3 linked regions of the Homo sapiens genome follow. The protein of the gene in region 2 binds, or shares a complex with, the protein of the main gene of each other region. Each region holds a gene or a part of one and is shown on either strand. Other genes may lie near its edges. A codon is read from its position in the direction of its gene.

Region 1 (7,024 bases), on a different chromosome or scaffold from region 2:
CAGCTGAGGCTGAAGGGGTCCTATGCTGCCCAAGCTCCCCAGCTGGAGAGCAGCAGGGACCCCAGGCCCTGTGCCCCAAGGAAGGCTGCTCAACTACAAGGTTGGCAGCTCTGCCACAAGCTACTTGTATTTTCCAGAGTCCTCATCAACCCCAGCACTAAGCAGAAAACTGATCCTTTGTCCCTGTCTGTGCCACTGCATGTGGCCTAACAGAGCACACCAGGGCTGCTGCCACCTCCTAGTATATCGGCTTCAGCCATGGCTCCAAGTGTGGCTGCCTGATGTCACCACAGGAAGTGTGAGGGGCCGCATAGATAATCTTGGGCACGTTACGTGGGAACCCCAGTGTCCCGCTGTGCCTGGAGGGATCGTGTAGTCCAAGCCACTGCCATTTCTTCAAGACAGCCCTGGGCCTTTCTGAGCACGGAATTTTCTTTTATTAGACCCTTAAGTAATACTTTGGAAGAAGAGGGTGAGATGAAGCTCCCTTGTTCTACAGAAACAAGCATCCTAGAGTACCCAGAAGGCAGACAAGGGAGGAGACATTCTCTAGCCCTTTGATCACACAGCTTTCAGCTGGCTGAGCATGCCAGGCCCGTGAGGCTCTAGGAGGGGTCAACATGAGCACCACTGGGGGAAACGCTAAGTCCAGAGAGTTCCCAGTTACTCGACACTGTTTCAAAGCCAACCATGCAAGTGTGTGTCCTGGAGAAAGAATTATGTTCTGCATCATCCATTACATTCGGAGAGCCTGCTCTGCACGCTGAAATTCTGAGTGGCACAGGGACGTGATGGGGGAAAGCTTTGCCACAGGCTTTTGTCTCTTGCTGGTGTCTGTTTTTAACTCATCTGTTCAATGAGGGGCATTTCCAGCCTATGCAACTGTGAAGGGATCTGGGAAGAGGAATATCAGCTCAAAGGTGGAAATCCTGGCATGTGACCCGGAACACCTGCCAATCTGCAGAGGTTGCCCCCAAGCCCAAGAAAACCAAATGGGCCCTTCCCTTCAGTGGCCACAGAGAAGGCACATATCAGCTGGCCCTCCCAGGGCCCTATGAAGCCCTCATGACCTCAGGAGTACAGGGCCATCTTGTATAGCCCCACAGGTCTTGCACTGCACAACTCCAAAAAGCGCTATTCCCAAAGTCTGTGGTATGAACGGTGCCCTGAGTTATACAGTGTGGAGGTCTGGGGATGCCACTCCTTGGGAGGCCACCCACTATCCACTGGGGCCCTGGGACTTAAAAATGAGAGATACACAAAGCAGAAGCATGGTTTGTTTATCTTTAAACAACAGATTAAATGACTTCTGAAATGCTTGCTTATAGGCTGACATGGGTCTCCAGCTGGGGTGGAAGAAGGGCAAAAAGGAAAAGTGGCCCTTCAGCTAATTTCTTGGAAGAAGCTACCTTACATTTTGTCCTTTTCATATCTATCGGGCTTTGGCTTGTGAACTTCCAAGATTTCCAGCCACCCCTTCCATTTTTCTCGAGATGACCCAGAAAAGTTGTTTCTAGCCCACGTCTAGCTCTGTGAGCATCACGCCCACTAGGGGGCAGGAGGCGCAAGGCCACACAAAGCCAAGCTCAGCCGAGAGTCTCAGGCTGCAGGGAGAGGTGCGTAAAGTCAACGCGGATTTGACTCTTGAAGTCATTTGTGTGCCAAGCTTTCTATTTAAGGAAGCACAAGGCCATCTTTAATTATCAGATCCCCCAGGACTTGAGCCACTGTGGCAGGTGACATTTAAAAGGGAAATCCTATTGGCATTAACCTGCTGACTTTTCTAATCCAGTCCCCCAGACGGCTTTCTCAAGGAGTCACCAAGACCTCTTGCAACCCCGTACCCGCGCCGTCCAGGGTCTTATTGGAGCTGCTGAAGCCACAGGTCAGCTCACCCACCCACCCTGCAGCAAACCAGCCCTACACTCGTTTTCCAGGCGCTGGGAATCTAGACAGAGAATGCAGAGGGGCACAATGGACCCAGGCTGGTGTGGGGGGATACCAGGAACATGAGCCTGGGCAGCCCAGGAGCCAAGCCTGGAAGGGGGAAGAGGTATCCAGGAACATTCTGCGTGACTTCTAAGAAACCCGATAGAGTTAGGCAGGGGTAACCAAGTACTGCTGAGCCAAGAACTGTCCCTAGCTGCTATGGTCTGAACATTTGTGTCCTCCCAAAATTCTTATGTTGAAACTGATCCCCAGTGTGAGGGTATCTGGAGATAGGGCCTTTGGGAAGTGATGAGGTAATGAGGGTAGAACCATCATGAATGAGATTAGTGACCTTATAAGCTCATGTACCCCTTCCACCGTGTTAGGACATGGAAAAGATGGTCATCTGTGAACCAAGAAACAGGCCCTCATGAGACACTGAATCTACCAATGTCCTACCTACCAATGCACTTCTCATCCTCCAGAGCTGTGAAAAATAAATTTCTATTGTTTACCAACTACCCTGTTTATGGTATTTTGTTTAGTATTTTGTCTTGGCCTGTACAGACTAAGGCACACCATTTCTGGCTCTGAGTAACGCAGTCAGAGAGGTGGTCATGAGAGCCAGTAAAGAACCCAATATAATGACATAAAACCCAGCAAGCCAAGCTGTGAGTAAGGATCACACACAGTCCGCTTCCTCTGTGCCTGTCAACTCCCTGAATCCCAGCCCAGAAGGCCTGTCGTAAGTACACACCTGATTCTGGTCTAATCCGCCATGACCCCTGCCTTCCTCCGACAGCACATACCCGAAGTGCAGCCCCCATTTAGGGCTGTTCATCAAGGTCTCCCCATCACAGATTCGAAACCCAGCCAGTATTGCTGGGGTTCCATGGGAGCAAACCCTGGAAAACCTCGTCCCTCTGGAAGCCTGAGTCCAGTCAAGACCCCCTGGGGATGACCCAAACCAGACAAACCTCAAGCAACATAAGGGAAGGAGCAGCTCTCGCTGTCACGGAGAGACACTGTGACTCATTCTGGAGCACTGGCTTCGTACCAAGCGCAGCCAAGAGATCATACGGAGATGACAACCTGTGATTTTCAGGGTGTTTTCAGGCAACATGCCTGGGAGTCGAGTCTGTTACCTCCGCTCAGGGGAAGCCAGCGCGCATGCACGCGCACACCCCCACAGCACACCCGGCCATGACTCATACCCTCTGAGTGGCGTGATTCAGCATCTCCTGCCAGGCGGAGTCGAACTGCCGCTTGTCATCCTCCAGCAGCCGCTGCTCGGCCAGGGAGATGGTCTCCTTGGCGGCACGGAGCACCTCTGTGGCCCTCTGGAAGTCCTGCGTGGCTTTCTGAGCTTCCAGCTGAGCCTGTGTGAGAAAGAATCCTCATGAGGCCTCAGAAAATGGCAGGGGCTCCCCATGGTCCATTTTACCTTTCAAAAAATAAGCATCCCAAGGACCAGGACAAGCTCATCTCTGCCTCTTCACTCCTGGCACCCACAGGTCCTCATAGATGCCAGACAGGGCAATGGACCCCTGATGGGGGAGTGAGCAACAAATCAGTGAGCGAACAATTTCCACAGTTCTGGGCCCAATGGATGAGATAAACACATCAGCCCTTGGCCAGAACCTGACATGGCAAACCAGCCCATCGTGGGACAGGTACAGCCAACCCCACAGCCTTTCTCAGAAGCTCTGCCTCACTCGAGGCCTGTCACCTTCCCTGCCCAGATCTGTGGCTCAATTCATGGCAAGTCAGAACCAGGAAGGCCCCCAGAGATCATGGTCCAAAGACTTCACTCTATAGAAGGGGGACCTTAGCTGAGAGGACACAGCCTTTCCTGAGATCACACAGCTGACTAGATGCAGAGCTGTGCCAGACTCCAGCCAGTATGAGTTCCAGCCCAGCACTGTCACTCTGCCAGACAGTCTCCCACTCAACTCACACCCACTGACACCAGCGACAGGCCAAGTATGGCACCAGGCAGGCAAAGAGAAGGACCTAATTAATTAACACAACACGGTCCCTGCTTTCAAGGAGCATCAGGTGGGAGAACCAATACCAACTGTAGCTGACCACCACGTCTAGAGCTGCCCCCACTACATGTGTCTACTGATTGTTCAAAATGTGATTAATCCCAGCCAGGTGCAGTGGCTCACACCTGTAATCCCAGCACTATGGGAGGCAGGCGGATCACTTGAGGTCAGGAATTAAAGACCAGCCTGGTCAACATGGTGAAACCCCATCTCTACTAAAAACACAAAAATTAGCCAGGCATGGTGGTGGGCACCTATAATCCCAGCTACTTGGGAGGCTGAGGCAGAAGAATCACTTGAACTCAAGAGGCAGAGGCTGCAGTGAGCCGAGATTGCACCACTGCACTCCAGCCTGGGTGACAGAGTGAGACTCCATCTCAAAAAAAAAAAAAAAAAGTGATTAATCCCAATTGAATGTAAGACATCCCTAATCTTAAAGACTTAGTACAAAAAAAAAAGAATGTTAAATATCTCAATAATTTTTATTATATGATGAAATAATATTTTGGATATATTAAATTAAATTAAATATATTATTAAAATTAATTTCAGCTGGGTGCAATGGATCCCACCTCTATTCCAGCACTTTGGGGGGCCAAGGCAGGAGGACCACTTGAGGCCAGGTATTCAAGACCAGCCTGGGAAACATAGCAAGACCCTACTTCTGGAAAAAATTAAAAAATTATCCGAGCATGGTGGCACATGGCTGTATTCCCCACTCCTTGGGAGCTTGAGGCAGGAGACCGCTTGAGGTTACAGTGAAATACAATTATGCCGCTGCACTCCAACCTGGGTAACACAATGAGCCCCTGCTTCTTAAATAAATAAAATTTAAAGATTAAATTCACAGAGGCTGGGCACGGTGGCTCAAACCTGTAATCCCAGCACTTTGGGAGGCTGAGGCAGGTGGATCACAAGGTCAGGAGTTTGAGACCAGTCTGGCCAACATGGCGAAACCCTATCTCTACTAAAAATACAAAAATTAGCCGGGTGTGGTGGCATACGCCTGTAGTCCCAGCTACTCGGAAGGTTGAGGCAGAAGAATCGTTTGAACCTGGGAGGTGGAGGTTGCAGTGAGCCGAGATCACGCCATTGCACTCCAGCCTGGATGACAAGAGCGAAATTCTGTCTCAAAAAAAAAAAAAATTAATTTCACCATTTCATCTCTCCCCATCTTTCCTTTTTTACTGTGACCACAGGGAAACTTACAATTATACAGGCGATTCCAATTCTATTTCTTGTGGACAGTAGATACCTTTACCCCAAGATGGGCCATGTGATGGCAGCTGTGTGACTGCATGAGAAATCAGCACTGAAACATCACAGTCACCACTCTACAGGCTCACCTTGAATTCCCCAGCAGGGTAGAAGCCACAAACCCGCCTCTGCAGCGTCCCACCACCCTCCCTCGTCCCACCACCCTCCCTCGGTTAACCACATCCCCAAGTCAGTTACATAAGCCCTGGTGGGACGTCCCTAAGGCAGCCCCTGGGACTCGGGAAGAGGGGAACTACAGGGACCCCACCCTTCCCCAAGCAATTCTTGCATGACTTCGAGGAAGTCTTCAGAAACCACAGGCTGAGGACGCTTTGTGAAGAAGGTTAAAGAAGGGGGAACAAAAAAATCAGAGACTCAGAGCACGCCAGCCCCCAAGGCAAAGAACAGCTTTTCCCGAGCACTCTGTGATTGTGTACTGCATACCAGACCCAGACCCAGCCCTCCAGGCGACGATGACAATCAGATGGAGACCCGAACCAAGCATGGAGTGGACACTCAGAAGTCTGTAATACAACGCTGTATGTGACAGTGCCACAGCAGGAAGGGAGGAATGGCAGGGAATGTGAAGGAGAAATTATTTCCAGTACAAAGAACCAAGGAAGGCCTCTTAAAGGAGGAGGATCCCGAACTCAGGACTAAGGACACAAATGATTTGAAAACATGGGCTGATGAGGTGGGGGACAGAAGGAAGGATTTGAGACTCTAAAGACATTACAAAACAGAGTGCCTGTAGGATAAAGACATTACAAAACAGAGTGCCTGTAGGATAAAGACATTACAAAACAGAGTGCCCGTAGGATAAAGACATATTACAAAACAGAGTGCCTGTAGGATAAAGACATTACAAAACAGAGTGCCTGTAGGATAAAGACATTACAAAACAGAGTGCCTGTAGGAGATTCGATGATACCTCAGATCAAATTTTTAAAAAGGACTCCAGTGAAGACCTTGAATGAATGCCAGGCTAAACCTTCAACCAAAGTGGCCCAGGGACCTGCCCCTGCTGTGGACTCACCATGTGGCCCTGGGACCAGTCGCCCACTTCCACTCAGGTGTGCCTCAGCTACACAAGGAGAACAAGGATGCCCACCCTCCCTAGAGCTGACCAACTCACCCCCCCAACCCCTGCCCCACCTCGTGCCTCCAGGCCCATTAGTGGTTCTTAGTTCTTTCATGTGAGGACAGCCCTGCAGGGCCTCCGCAGGCCAAGCTGCTGGGAACGAGAGGAAGCAGAGGGAACCTGTCACCTTAAAAGCCACTCCACCCCCTACCCATAGGTGGCCTCTCCTACCTATATGCTTCACACCAACTCCAGGAGACAGGATGAATCCCACAGGATCCTAAAATGGGATTTGTATTTGCCTTTTTAGGAATTTTTTAGTATTTCAATTCAGCAACATTTAAGGGTAAACTCTCTTCTCCCAGTTCTCTCTGCTTCAGTTATGAATCCCTTATTTCTTCAAGCAAGAAAAGATGCTCTTTTGACGGCCTTCTGAAAGGTGGCTGCTGTACCACGGGCCCAGCACCTCTTCACACCCTCTGCCATGTATCTGATGAGTTCCAAATAAGAGAACCAGATCTCTACAAAGGAAAAGAGGAAGCCCATGTGAAGCTGCCTTTGAGAAGAACATGTGCTGTCAAATTCCGGACAAGCGTCTGAAGTTTCTGCGAGATTCCTTCTCCTGTACAGTGACATAGGATACATGTTTGCCTTGCCATATCACAGGTACAACTAATGTGAGGCCTCATTCCACATTTAACCCACAGAA
Region 2 (7,024 bases):
CAACCTAAGGTAGGAAAGAGCGCTGAGTGTGTCTCTAGATTCTAATTATGATTTATTACAAGAAACATTTTAACAATTCTTATTTAACAAATTCCAGAATATCTGACTCTCCTTAAACTTTAATATAAAAGTATCAGTTTTTTTTGTTTTGGGAGTACTTCTTTAAAATCAATTATTTACTGTATATCTTTATAATTATAGCAAATGTAATTAGGATATAATACTGTGTTGGGATTATTTTGCCAACTTTGTTAAATGACTTATTTACAGAAAATCTGACATCTTCTTTGCCTCTATTTTAAGTTTGACATCGAGTGGTTAGAATTTTGAGGAAGTTTGATCAATGATGAAATGATAGCTTGGTAGGGCATGCTAACCTAACTGTTTAAAAAATGTCTCTTCATAATTTATAATGACAAGCACTTAGGTTTTATTTAACTACACTAATGTATTCTATTTAAGTATGTCTAAGTACTTATAGCTTACCTATATCCATAGTATTAATACAGGCTCATGTCTAAGAGTAATTTGTAACTCTAACCTTATATAATGTTTTAGTTTCATTATTTCTAGTGATTCTGAATTACTGCTGTATTTTCTCATGCACATGATAATTAGATGAGCTTCTATCAAAGCATGTTCTTGTTTAATTATTACTACTGCTTTATTAAGGAATATTATTGTTTTTCCCACCTTCATTTCATATCTTCATAGTCCATGGTTATATATTTTTTATTCCAATAACTGACAGAATATGTAATAATTTAAGTTTTATTCAGCCAGATTATAGAGATGAAGAAAAGGATTTGCAAATTAGTTTGATTTTATCTTTGTTCAATCTCCTATCTACTGTTTGTATTATATATTTCTTTTTGTTGAATACAGTTAAGTTTATCTTTAATCAGGACTGACAATCTTTTTCAGTCCAAACCTCTTGAATAGCTAGGAGTAAAGACTTGACAAACTTCAACTAAGTAATATTATGGTAAGAGTCCCTTAACTGTCACACCTTACCTTAGTGGAAATGAGTTAACTAACTTAACACCAAAGAACAGTTGTAGAAGAATAAGCAATGTAGGAGAGAATACTGCTTGCAGTATTGGATTTAAGGGAATTTCCAAGATCTCTATTATTCACTGGCACATGGCGAGGAAATCTGTTTAAATCAGTTGTTTCCAGTTGGTTCTTCAGAGTAGATGGTGTTTATCATTATCAAGGCTCTGATATATCGAATATTAATGACAGATAAAAAAGAGAATCTCAATCATTGAGTATGTCTGCAAAAAGAGCTAGCTCCAATTTAAAAGGGTATTAATTTTCATAGAGAGGTAATATTTTTTCTGTGGTATTCCCCATGCTTAATGTACTTTCTAAACTTGGATGTACTTGGATAGAAATCTGTTGTTTTAAATTGAATATTCCTCTGTTCACCCTTATATTTCATTGAAAACAATATTCAGTGATATCATCAGTAAAACAATAGGTATGAAATAGGTGGCTTCTTTGTTTAATAAATATGATTTTTAGGAATCTGACAAAGAACTAATGAGTTGTTTTACTATAAAAGTTATGTTGATATGCATAAAAATAGAAAAAAATTCCAGATTTTTAGAGAAGAAAAAATATCTTAAAGATAGTTTAGGAAAATGTAAATGAATATAATCTAAAATATTTGTGTATTTGTCATTTTAAAAATATAAATAATTGAGGTAACTTCAGGATAAAAATGTCACTATGATGTGTCATTATATATTTTTCTTCTGAATCACATGATTTATATAGAAGTTTATCTGCAGAATATGAGATTCATCTTGTGTTATCTGAATGACTTTTTATCTGTACACCCCAAAGACTATTTCATGATATCTTATTTTGTTAAATAATTGCTAGTTTTCCAAAAGTATATAAGTTTCAAAAGTGAATTTAAAATTTCAAGAAGACTCATAGCCTGCAAGTCTGATTTTATATTTTCATTCTTTGTTGCTTATTAAAACTACAGTTGCATTAATGACTGTTGAGGACTTTGAGAAGAGTTAGTCTCCCAATTGTTGAAAGGCTAGTGGTCTGCTCTTCTTTTTTCCCTTAACTGTTCAATTCTCAGATATTGACCAGTGGAATAAGGTAATTGAACAACTAGGAACACCATGTCCAGAATTCATGAAGAAATTGCAACCCACAGTAAGAAACTATGTGGAGAATCGGCCCAAGTATGCGGGACTCACCTTCCCCAAACTCTTCCCAGATTCCCTCTTCCCAGCGGACTCCGAGCACAATAAACTCAAAGGTATGCCCTTCAGGAATGACTTGAGGACAACTATGAGGGTGACGGGCCAAACAAGCACACAGTATAGAGACCTCTATCTCTTTCTCTTTGTTCCCTTTTATTTTTAGTTGACACATGATAATCGTACATTTTTGTGGGATATAGGGTGGTATTTTTGAAACATGTATAGAGGTATAATGGTCAAATCAGAGCAATTAGCATAACCCATCACCTAAAACATTGATCAATTCTTTAATTGGCACAGCCTCAAGTTAAAGAAATATTTCTTCAAAGATCGTTCCTACAAAGGGGAGTAGCCACGGATTTTAGAATTGTCTGGATATTCAGGGCCGGGGGCGGTGGCTCAAGTCTGTAACCTCAGCACTTTGGAAGGCGGAGGCGGGAGGATCAAGAGGTCAGGAAATCGAGACAGACCATCCTGGCCAACATGGTGAAACTGCGTCTCTCCTAAAAATATAAAAAAATTAGCTGGGCATGGTGGCACACACCTCTAGTCCCAGCTACTCAGGAGGCTGAGGCAGGAGAGTCGCTTGAACCTAGGAGGAAGAGGTTGCAGTGAGCCGAGATCGGGCAACTGCATTCCAGCCTAGAGATAGAGTGAGCAAGACTCCGTCTCAAAAAATAGATATATATTATACTTCATAATGTAATTCCAATTTTCTTGAGTTTACTTTTTAAATCAATTTGAATCTCTGCAATTATGTTTGTAAATGATAAACTAGTTTGCATATTTGATTATTGAATTTAATTTTTAATATAAAATTGGCAAATTATAAATAATCTTAATATACAAATAACCAAAGAGAAGAATGTATTCTACTGTGTTTGGAAAAGAGCATAACACATTTGCTTTCAAATGAAAGAATGAAAGATAAAGCATTGAAACATTTTCCCATATTGTTTCCTAAAAATAGTATTGTTTCTTAGCAAGATGATTTTGTATTGGTGTAGTTCATGACCCTATTCATGAAGAATCCATTGTAACCCCAGCCCTTTCTTTTTTTTTTTTTTTTTTTTTTTGAGACAGAGTCTCGCTCTGTCGCCCGGGATACCGATCTAGGCTCACTGCAAGCTCCGTCTCCCAGGTTCACTCCATTCTCCTGCCTCAACCTCCCGAGTAGCTGGGACTACAGGCGCCCGCCACCACGCCCAGCTAATTTTTGTATTTTTAGTAGAGATGGGGTTTCACCGTGGTAGCCAGGATCGTCTCGACCTCCTGACTTCGTGGTCTGCCTGCCTCGGCCTTCCAAAGTGCTGGGATTGCAGGTGTCAGCCACGACCACGCCCGGCTAACCCCAGCCCTTTCTAAGAGCAGAAAAATGGATAGATTTGATGAGAGAATCTTATGAGAATGGTACATGAATTTGGATGTAAAATCAGTTACAAATTAAAGAGGTCTTTAAAGCAATGAATAAATAAACACAGCCCTGTTAGGCTATTAGGAGGCCATTGGCAATGAGAAAAATTAAATATTGAATTAATGTATAAGTATTTCTGTATTTTTGTTATTCCTGTGCGGTACAGAGTTTTAATTTGAAAGTAATGATAATCAGTTTCTAGGATTGAGTTTCCCAGAAAAATGATTAATAGAAATAAAAAATTCTCAAGTTTAACTAGTGATTTTTCATATTTGTTCAGAAAATTAAAAGATATATTTATTGATGTAATTACCAAGAAAATACTTACAGGTAAAAAATTAATTGCTACATTTTAACTATAGTATGGTTAATATTACGTGAAAAATACATGAACGGCACTAGAAAAAATATGCCAATAATCACAGTCATTGCCTCTAGCTAGTGGGGTTAGATATTATTTCCTGATTTTTGTATTTTATATAATTTTCAAATTTGTAGAATTAGCCAAGTTGTTTTAATCTGAAAAATTGATTAAATAAAAATTGATATGTATCCAGAGTCATCTATGTTGATTTTTTGAAAAATCCATTTAAATTTTGTTATCTTTAATTTGATGTTTTACCATATAGTTAGAATAAACTGAATATTTTCACGGTTCAACTTTCAGATCAGTTGAGTAACAATATTGATTTGAGATATTCATTTCTGTTAAAACTTTATGTAAAAGACTAGGGGAGGGATAGCTTTAGGAGAAATACCTAATGTAGATGACAGGTTGGTGGGTGCAGCAAACCACTATGGCATGTGTATACCTATGTAACAAACCTGCATGTTGTGCACATGTATCCCAGAACTTAAAGTATAATAATTTAAAAAATTTACATATTTTTAGAGGTTAAAATTAATGTGTCTTTTAACAATCTTACTAAATAAATAGCTATCACCATATAATTTTATAACTGTTACTGCCCACAACCATAAAATTAATTATGATAACCTTTACATAATATAGAGTTTCTCATTAGTGTCTGGTGTAGCATTAGACTGGCTTCAGTCTTTAACTACTGGATTTCATCAAGTCATGATTCCATTGATTAAAAATACCTGATGATTACAGAATGTTAAAATAAAATTCAGTAGTTGAATGATATTATTTCTATCACTTCAATTCTTTGATTGTTTTTATGTATATAAGAAATTTGTGGCTGGGAGCAGTGGCTCACTCCTTTAATCCCAGCATTTTGGGAGGCTGAGGTGGGAGGATCTTTGAGCCCAGAGTTCGAGACCAGCTTGGGCAATGTAGGGAGATCTTATCTTTACAAAAAAAAAGAAAGAAAGAAAAAATAGCCAGGCATGGTGGTGCATGCCTGTAGTTCCAGTTACTCGGGAAGCTGGGATGGGAGGATCCTTTGAGCGCAGGAGTTCCAGGCTGCAGTGAGCTGTGATCATTCCACTACACTCCAGCCTGGCAACAGAGGGATACCCTGTCTCAAAAATAAATAAATAAATAAATAAACAAAAACAAAAAGAAAAGAAAAATTTGTATGATACAAACTCTTAAGTCAATTTATATACTAAAATTCTGATAATTCCGTTGTATAAATAAGAATATAGAGACACACGTGTTGATTAACTTCAAACAGCCGTCCACACATTTGTTGAACATCATGCATTTGCACTCTGTGCTCTTTATTCTGTTTATCCTATATTCATGCAGGTTACCAAAGAAGATGACTTTGCTTACATAAACTCTCCAGGTTGATACATTTTACTAAGAAGTTTGCGTGAATAATTATATACCCAAAGTGTTACAACCCTTGGAGAGCCTCAGAATGAAGCCTTAGGCTTAGAGACACAAAGAAACAGGTGTAAAATGCATTTTCTTTTCCATCACATCAAGGGATTTACCTGATGTTTGGAAGGAAGATACTATTCCATACTTTGTTTTCTTAAATTTCCTCTCTGACAAATTTCCTTACTGAAATCAAAATCTTACTAATTGTTTTTCTCATTTATTGTTTCAGCCAGCCAAGCCAGGGACTTGTTGTCAAAGATGCTAGTGATTGACCCAGCAAAAAGAATATCAGTGGACGACGCCTTACAGCATCCCTACATCAACGTCTGGTATGACCCAGCCGAAGTGGAGGCGGTAAGAAATAGGCTGCCTTTACTTTGCTTCCACAAACAAATCATAGCTCATAGCAAAAACTGAATAGGACTAGAAGCCTAAAGAATGCACAATGGATTTTTATAAAATTTCTAAGTCCAAAGCCTATTATCTGCCCCTCTAAAAGCTATTTTCTTCAACATATGTTTTAAATACATTTTTTTCAGGACTTACTAGAAGAGGGTATGATTTAGTCCTACAAACCTTAGATGTCCATGATACACTACCATTTGTTTCTGTTAAATTGCCAATACTTGTGTTTCTTCTTGTGTGTTTGACTGCCAGTCTCTTCTAATGCAAACTTAGTGGTAGGAAACAACAGAGGACAAGTTGCTTAGCTTGTATTTTTTTTTTGAAAAGATACCTGCCACTAGTAAAATGTGATACTTAAGAATATTTCAATTAGAAAGCTTTTATAAGATGATTAAAACGATTGGTGGCTTTGTGAAACCTTGCATGAACTAGATGAACTAGAAGTGGGTATTTCAGTAAGTACATTACTTCAGGTTGATCAGTATGATGTATCTCCATGTCTGATACCCAGACATGGAGAATCTTCTCAGAAGCATAACTCTTTCTATTTTAAAAATATTTTTCAACCATTTACTATCTTCTGTTCAACCTCTTTCTTTCATCTTTACCTCTCTCCTTTCCTCTGTATGGATCCAGGGCTGAGCAGGGCAAGGGGGGCTTGCTGTTGCCCATGTGTGTTCTATAGGCCTCCTGATGAGAATTTCCTTTCTGCACTGCCTTTAAATGTTTCTATCAGGAATGTTACCTTCTCCCTTAAACATGAGAAGCTTCTCAAATTCTTAGAGTACCTGTGCTAAAGCATCTCATATTTTTTTACATAATACCTTCCAATCCATTTGTTTGGATTTGTTCTTAATCTTTCATTTGAAATACTGTTTGTTTCCCCAAAGTATTCTTAAAGATATTTTCACTTTCTTTCAGTTTTCTTTCCTCTGCTTCACCATGTGTTTTTCCATGTCAGAGGTGCTAGATTCAAACACATAATTCTCATTTCTTCATTCTTCACTAGAGAAGATACGAAAGAAAGTGAGAACTAGGTAGAATTGAACTTTACAGACACAATATTAAACAGGTCCTTTTCATAATGTAACCCAATCTTTAAGCATTTAAAAACTTCAGAGAAAACACTTAAGTGATTAATGAATCTCCCAAGTGTGAAGACTGCACTACATTTTGTTTAAG
Region 3 (7,024 bases), on a different chromosome or scaffold from region 2:
ATATATATATATATATATGTGCAGAGGTCACTGGCAGAGCAGGGGCATTTCAGGGCACCTCTGGGTCAGCGGTCCTGCAGCTCTCCCATGCCATCTGAGTACCAGGGGCTCCCTTTTGCACCACTGGCCTTCTCGGTGACCATCTGGGCAACCAGTGTGAATTGAACACTTACTTGGTGCTGGCCACTGGGTTTTTGTCCCTGAGCCTGAGATGCCACCCTGCCCTGGCCGGACGGAGGAGGGCTGCTCTGGCTTCTGGGCCAGGCCCTCCTCCCCACTTCCACCCCAGCTGGCCAGCCACACCCTCCCCATGGCCTGGGGAACCACCACCCTTGGGCTGCAGGTCAGACGTGACCCTACAGGGCACCTTGTCCATCCAGCCCCCATTCCCCACCCCTCTGTGCAGTGCCCTCCAGGGGCCTCCAGGTTCTGTTTATGTCATTCCAAAGGGAGAGGAAGCTCATTACCACACAGCAGCCCTTCCAGCTCTGCTCTAAGGGCCCAAACACTGGCCTGCCCTTAGCTGTGGCTCTGGTGCCTCCTGCTTCCATAGGCCCTGCCTTCCTGGGTCCTGAAGGCTCAAGCTCTGGCTGCAGAAGGAGGCAGCCCAGATCAAACCCAGTTTGGATGCAGCCTGGGCCCACAGAAGCCTCTCTGATGAGGTCGGGGGGCTGAGCCTATGGCAGTGCAAACCGAGTGTTCATTCTTAGGGTGTTTGGGAAGCCCCCCTTCATCTCCCACCTGGCACCCTGACTGGGGAACTGGCCCTTTAAAGCCAACCAAGGGCTGGCTTTTGGGGGGAAACATCCTAGATTTCTGCCATCTACTTACAAGCCTGGGCCAGGGAGGGGGGGCCACTCAGCCCCCGACAGGGGCATTGGAAGGGCAGGTGGAGCCAGTGGCATTGATTGCAGTAACCTGATCCCGTGAGGGAGGCGGCCACAGCGGCAGCAGCGCAAGGGCCAGGCCAGCCGGGAGGAAGGTGCCTGCAGCTGAGGGCTGCGCTGGGAAGAGCTGGGGCTGGGACCCGGGTCGGCAGCTGCAGCCTCCTCTCCTGGCCTGTCTATTTTTAATGAGCTCCCCAGGCTTCTGCAGCAGGCAGGACGCAGAAAGACAGGCCCAAGCGGTGGAGGCCAGAGGCCCCCAGCCCTGCCTTGAGCCCTGGCCCCCCCACCCTTCCGGGCATGAGAGGGCAGCCCTGGGGCCCCGCAGCCCCCCGGCCGGGCAGGGCTCTCCATGCAGCTGGTGCTGAAGATGGATTCGAGCCCAGACAATGACAGCTGGTTGGAGGATCAATGGGAGCGCTGGTAGGGGCTACCGGGGCTGGCGGGGGTGGAGACCGAGTTGGGGTGAGCTCCATCGAGCTCAGGGTCTCTGATCTGAATGAGGCGAGTGGCAGGGAGTCTGGGCCTCCTAGGTTCCCCTGGGGGCTAAGCCACCATCTCTCCTGGGTGACCTTGAACTAGTGGGTTTCCCTTGCTCTGTGCCTCAATTTCTTGGACTTATTTGGGAAAAGGCTCATACATTCTCCCCAACTTCCTAAATGTTCTACCCCCCCACCACCCCCCCAGCAAGCCAGGCAGAGTGCCCAGGACCTAGAGGTGAGCAAGAGACAGGCTGCCTTGCAGTGGCTGGCCCAGCCCTGCATTCTGAGGTGGGGACTCAGGGCTGGCCTAGGGAGAGGGGGGTTCTAGTGGAGCTGGTTAGTATTCTGGTGCCCTGGTGCTCTGAGCTGTCTCCCAAGGTTGTAACACCTCTGGTCCCACCTGGGGCTTCTCCTGACCCCATCTGTGCAGCCTCCTGTTCAGGGTCCTTACACTGGATAAGGAGAAGATGTTGTGGTTGAAGAGATGAGACCACCAAGTGCACAGCATGAGGCTGGAGTCCTTTCTGGAATAGGCTGAAACTACCCACACTGACACCAGATTTTCCTTCGCTTGTTCCCTGGGCTCAAGGGGCATGAGTCTTCCTGAGCTGGGGCGTGGGGCACTCCTCTGAGGCTGCTGCCGGCGCCTCGGGTCTTGCTACTGCAGGGATTGCACTGGGAGCTCCCCTACTCCAGGCTGCTCTTCTCAAGTCCACATTCTCCATGGTGAACTGGCCTTGGCACCTGCCTTGACCCTGGGAGGAGGCTCTGACCAGTTGGGCCTTCTAAGCACTGCCTGCTGGTTGGCAACAGAATGACAGCTTCCAGGGAGGAGCCAGAGTGACCTGGAGCCTCCTCTTCCACTGCCACCCTAGGAGGACTGCCTTTTGGCACAAGCCCCTCGCTCTTTCCCTGCCTGCTGACCACCCCCTGCATTGATACAGATGAACCCCAAATCCTGTCCTCTGGGGGCTGTGTTTGGCCTTCAAGAGGCTGCACCCTGGAAGAGGTAACAGGGAGATGTGAGCAGGCATAGTGCCCCTGAGTTGTAACTTTGGCTTCCTGTCCCCACCAGGCTCACCCATGACATCAGCCTGGAGGAGTTTGAGGATGAAGACCTCTCGGAGATCACTGATGAGTGTGGCATCAGCTTACAGTGCAAAGACACCCTGTCCTTACGGGTAAGGGCAAGCTCCCAGGAGCTCCTGAGTGGGGTGGCAGGAAGGCTAGGGACAGGGGTAAGGGTATCCCCATAGTGACAAAGGGGGTTTCAGGTCTGTGCTGGCACCCTCATGAAATGAAATGATGTGCAAGAAACATAGGTATACTGCTTGGCACGTCTTGAGTGTACAATCAGAATTTCATTTGGTATTATTATTATTATTACTGCTGTCGGGGACTAAGACAGGAAGTAGCTCCTTCAACTGCCCACGAGATGGGAGAGGCCAGGAAGTCTTGAGACCTAGGGCAGTAACAATTAGGACCAGACTTAAGGGAGACTCAGGGCTACCCCTGAATCCTTTTGGGAGCAGCCCTGGCAGAGGGCCTGAGGCAGACAGGGTGGAGTCTGGTGGAATCTGCAGTGCTTTAGGGCAGGAAGAAACAGCCAAGGCACCCCTGGAATAGCTCCTGTGGCTGCTGGCTGCTATTACACCAGACAGATGGCACCACGCGGCCTCCCAGACCCTCTCTGGCCTATAGTCCTAAAGGCCCCCACTGAGGGGTTTGCCCAGCATTGCTGCTGGTTTGGGCCCCTTGGCTTTGTCATAGGGAAGATGGCTCTCTCCTGTCCCTAAAGATCTGAATGCTGCCAGGAGGTCCCCAGCACCTGGGTAACTGGGGTCAGATGGGGATCCCAACTATGTCTTTTCAGAACAGGAAGAAGGGGCCGGCTTGCCAGGAAATGGAGGACAGAGCACAGGGCTAGGTTTTAGAGCCCAGAGCTCCTCTGAGCCCCCAAGAGGGCGGGTAGCCAGATACGGTGTCAGGAGAGTGGTTACCATAGGAGCGTGAGGTGTGCCTTGGGGAGGGAGTACCTGTCTCTGTGTTGACCTCCTGCTACTCCCAGAGACTCAGTAAGCTCTGCAAGAGGAAACCAAGGGGTGAGGATAATCCCCTAGTCCCCAGTACCCCAACCTTCCACTCTCTGGCCAGGCCAGGAAGAGGCAGAGGCCTCTAGATTTGGGGAATGGTCTCAGAGCCCTGACTTAGCTTCTCAGAGGTCAGGCACCTGTTCTGGACTCTCACCCTGCCCTCTCCCCCAGCTGCACCAGCAGAGCCTTGGAGAGGGTTGCCTCCGAGCTAGGCAGGGGCCCCAGGCACTACTGGCCAGAGGTGTGCCCCTAAGGGGCCTCAGACAAGCTCCAGCGGGCTTCACACACGTTCCAGTGAATACTCAGCTCTCTCAGAGGCTGGGAGGCAGTAGTGTTATCCCCACTCAACTGATGAGGGGGCCTGAAGGATCAGGGGATCTGTCCAAGGTGCCAGGGAGTTGGCGGCAGAACTGGAGCTAGATGGGGCTCTGCATCCTCAAGGCAGGCTCGTGGAGGACCGATCTAGGGCTGGAGGGGCCCCGGGCCAGCTGGCTTAGGGCGCGGCTGCCACCGCCTTGGTTCCTGGCCCCCGCTCGCCCCTCCCCCTCGGCGTCTCCTTCCCATCCCTCTCAGGTCTCCGCCGTTCCTTGCTTGGCTGAGCCTCAGTTTTTCCAGTTTTCCTCAAGACCCCTTCAAATACTATTTCCCCAACCCCCATCCCTTGCCCACCCCACCCCGAACTCCTTGGCGACCACTGAGTCCCCATAGCAACAGCGGTGACTTCACTCTGGGCTCGGCTTACAACCCCGGTGAGGTCACCGGCCGTTGCCAGGGGAACGGGAGGGCGCAAGGAGTCCGGGGTGGGGACTGTGGGGAGGTGCTGGCCGTCAGAGGCACGGCTGGATCGGGGAGGCGGCGGCCTCGCGCTTCCTCGCGGCGGACGGGCGAGAGCGCCCCAGTCTCCGGCGGCCCCTGCTCGGCTCCCCTCGTGCCCCCTTCGCGCCACAGAATGGACTCGCCCGGGCGGGGGGCGGTGCAAGCGGCCTCGGCCCCGCCCCGGCCCCGCCCCCTGACGCCCCTCCGTGCGCTGTGCAGCCCCCGCGCGCCGGGCTGCTCTCTGCGGGCGGCGGCGGCGCGGGGAGCCGGTTGCAGGCCGAGATGCTGCAGATGGACCTGATCGACGCGACGGGGGACACTCCCGGGGCCGAGGACGACGAGGAGGACGACGACGAGGAGCGCGCGGCCCGGCGGCCGGGAGCGGGGCCGCCCAAGGCCGAGTCCGGCCAGGAGCCGGCGTCCCGCGGCCAGGGCCAGAGCCAAGGCCAGAGCCAGGGCCCGGGCAGCGGGGACACGTACCGGCCCAAGCGGCCCACCACGCTCAACCTCTTTCCGCAGGTGCCGCGGTCTCAGGTGAGGCGCCAACGTGGGGGGCGGCGCCCTGGGCCGCCGCGGAGATGTGAGGGGGAGCGCAGAGGGGCTGCAGCGGGAAGGGGCACCCACGGGTCCAGTGCCTGGGGACAGCGCCTGCATAGGGGCCGCGGTGGCTCGCTCCCGGTGTTGGGATCCGAGGAGCGGGCAGAACCATCCTTACGAAGAGGGGGCTGAGTCCAGCTGGCCGGGCTTGGAGCCTTGAGGCGGGATTGAAGGAGGGAAGGACTGGGGTTAGGAGAGGAGTAGGGAATTAAGAGAATGAGGCTTTGAGGGGTTCGAAGGGTTTGGAGCCTGGGACCTCAGGCTGTGACAGGGTTTCTCCTTTAGGATATGGGGCTCCTGGTGAAAGTGGAGCAGGAGCAGGGCCTGGAGAAAAGGGCATCTGAAATGGTCATCGTGGGGGAGGCCGTGGGAGATCGTGGCGAGGTGGGGATGGGAAGCTCAGGGGCCACAGCCAGTTTAAGATCTGGGCAGCTGCGAATTCCCAGAAGGCAGGGGGGAGGAATGGGAGATGGAGCTGCTTGGCTAAGTTGGGGACCTAGGGCCCCTGGGAGGGTGGCTGGATGCCAAGGAGAGTTGAATAGGGTTGGGGGAGCTGGCTGTGGCCCTTTGTCTTCCAGGCCCATCGGGAGCGGTGCAGGCAAGGAGCTCCTGGGAGGTGGGGCGGCTGGGGCTGCGGGGAAAGGCTTGGTCCCTTTCCCAGGATCCTGTGAATGGCTTTTGGCAGCCCGGCTCAGGAACGTGAGGGCTTGGGAGAGAGCTCCCAGGGGAGGGAGCCTCCGTGGAGTGGAGGGAGCCCTGTGTGGGCATTGTGGGGAGGGGTCCCAGGGCTGAGAATGTAGAATGGGCAGCCCAGGAGATCCAGGAAGGAGGGCTGCTGACAACTGCATCTGTCACTCCTCAGTCTCATGCCACTGTGGTGGGGGGTGCAGGAAAACTCTGTTATGGATTTGTCACTGGGATGATTCATCCTGGTCCCCCAGGCCAGCTGCTAGGGAGACCCTTCCTTGTGCTTTTTCCAGGCTCTACCAGAAGGTCCTCACCCCTTCTAGGCCATAACTTCCCAAGCTCCAGAGCAGAGAGTCACCTGTCTCTGACTTGGGCTGGATTTGAGCATTTTCCAAGTAACCCTCAGTACCTGGGACTGGGGGTCTGACTGTGTCTCCAGAGAGCTCCTGCTTCTCTTCTCCCCTGCCTCCTCCCCCTCTTGCCACCACACACATTGGCCATCACCACCTTTGTTAAGGCTGATAAGAGCATCTCCCTGAGGGTTGGCCAGCTTCCCTGAGCAAGGCGGAGGGCCATCCAGAGCCGGCAAGCCTGGCTGTGACTTGCCACCCTTCCTGCCTGCTCCAGAGGAGAGTTACGAGTGAGGCCTTTGACAGTGGAGGCGGGGTGGACACAGCAAATGGCCCTAGGGATGGCCTGAGGGGGCAGGGCCGGGGCCTCCCTGTGCCGGGCACTGTTGACCACTTCCATCACAAGAGCCTTTTGTTCCCTGCACAGGACACACTGAATAATAATTCTCTGGGCAAAAAGCACAGTTGGCAGGATCGGGTGTCTCGATCATCCTCACCCCTGAAGACAGGTAAGTCAGGGCCCTCTTCCTTACCTGGACCTCCGCCTGCCCTGACTCAGTCCCCACTACAGAGAGCAAACCCTACAGTCTCCAAAGGGCTGAGTAGAGGTGAACTGCCCACCCACATCCCTGCACGAGCCCATCCAGGGGCTGAGATCAGTGGTGGCATGAGTGAGTTGACTGGCCCCAGAGCCTGCGAAGGGCCTGTTGCCCAGGGAGGCTTTGTCTTGGTTTCTGTGTCACCAAGCTGAGAGTGGCAGGTGCAGGTAGCTGGGAGTTGGGAGAGAGCCCCTGCCTTCATGACCTGCCTGCTCTCCAGGGGAGCAGACACCACCGCATGAACACATCTGCCTGAGCGATGAGCTGCCCCCCCAGAGCGGCCCCGCCCCCACCACAGATCGAGGCACCTCCACCGACAGCCCTTGCCGCCGCAGCACAGCCACCCAGATGGCACCTCCGGGTGGTCCCCCTGCTGCCCCGCCTGGGGGTCGGGGCCACTCGCATCGAGACCGAATCCACTACCAGGCCGATGTGCGACTAGAGGCCACTGAGGAGATCTACCTGACCCCAGTGCAGAGGCCCCCAGACGCTGCAGAGCCCACCTCCGCCTTCCTG

What was found. Proteins that work in one complex are often made in the same cells at the same time.
Region 1: the proteins of MAPK10 (region 2) and SH3BP5 are in contact, whole or in part, in a crystal structure (PDB 4H3B), measured with the Homo sapiens proteins. Residues at the interface, in NP_620448.1 of Homo sapiens: Lys121, Asp150, Ala151, Gln155, Val156, Met159, Leu161, Glu164, Arg165, Tyr168, Tyr171, Val197, Lys198, Ser199, Asp200, Cys201, Trp362 (codon at 5,765), Asp364 (codon at 5,771), Glu367 (codon at 5,780); in NP_004835.2 of Homo sapiens: Val341, Val342, Arg343, Pro344, Gly345, Ser346, Leu347, Asp348, Leu349, Pro350.
Region 3: the proteins of MAPK10 (region 2) and MAPK8IP1 are in contact, whole or in part, in a crystal structure (PDB 3PTG), measured with the Homo sapiens proteins. Residues at the interface, in NP_620448.1 of Homo sapiens: Asp150, Ala151, Gln155, Val156, Met159, Leu161, Glu164, Arg165, Tyr168, Leu169, Tyr171, Val197, Lys198, Ser199, Asp200, Cys201, Trp362 (codon at 5,765), Asp364 (codon at 5,771), Glu367 (codon at 5,780); in NP_005447.1 of Homo sapiens: Pro158 (codon at 4,759), Lys159 (codon at 4,762), Arg160 (codon at 4,765), Pro161 (codon at 4,768), Thr162 (codon at 4,771), Thr163 (codon at 4,774), Leu164 (codon at 4,777), Asn165 (codon at 4,780), Leu166 (codon at 4,783).

The regions. Positions count from the first base shown.
Region 1 is NC_000003.12:15,266,570-15,273,593, forward strand, and holds part of SH3BP5 (SH3 domain-binding protein 5), read right to left. Parts: intron 6,811-7,024; exon of another isoform or gene 6,547-6,810; intron 5,292-6,546; exon of another isoform or gene 5,187-5,291; intron 3,309-5,186; coding exon 3,144-3,308; intron 1-3,143. UniProt on the Homo sapiens protein: Functions as a guanine nucleotide exchange factor (GEF) with specificity for RAB11A and RAB25. Inhibits the auto- and transphosphorylation activity of BTK. Plays a negative regulatory role in BTK-related cytoplasmic signaling in B-cells.
Region 2 is NC_000004.12:86,063,033-86,070,056, reverse strand, and holds part of MAPK10 (mitogen-activated protein kinase 10), read left to right. Parts: intron 1-2,101; coding exon 2,102-2,284; intron 2,285-5,666; coding exon 5,667-5,791; intron 5,792-7,024. UniProt on the Homo sapiens protein: Serine/threonine-protein kinase involved in various processes such as neuronal proliferation, differentiation, migration and programmed cell death.
Region 3 is NC_000011.10:45,895,644-45,902,667, forward strand, and holds part of MAPK8IP1 (C-Jun-amino-terminal kinase-interacting protein 1), read left to right. Parts: intron 1-2,441; coding exon 2,442-2,547; intron 2,548-2,752; exon of another isoform or gene 2,753-2,828; intron 2,829-3,402; exon of another isoform or gene 3,403-3,448; intron 3,449-3,808; exon of another isoform or gene 3,809-3,892; intron 3,893-4,494; coding exon 4,495-4,809; intron 4,810-6,336; coding exon 6,337-6,418; intron 6,419-6,728; coding exon 6,729-7,024. UniProt on the Homo sapiens protein: The JNK-interacting protein (JIP) group of scaffold proteins selectively mediates JNK signaling by aggregating specific components of the MAPK cascade to form a functional JNK signaling module. Required for JNK activation in response to excitotoxic stress.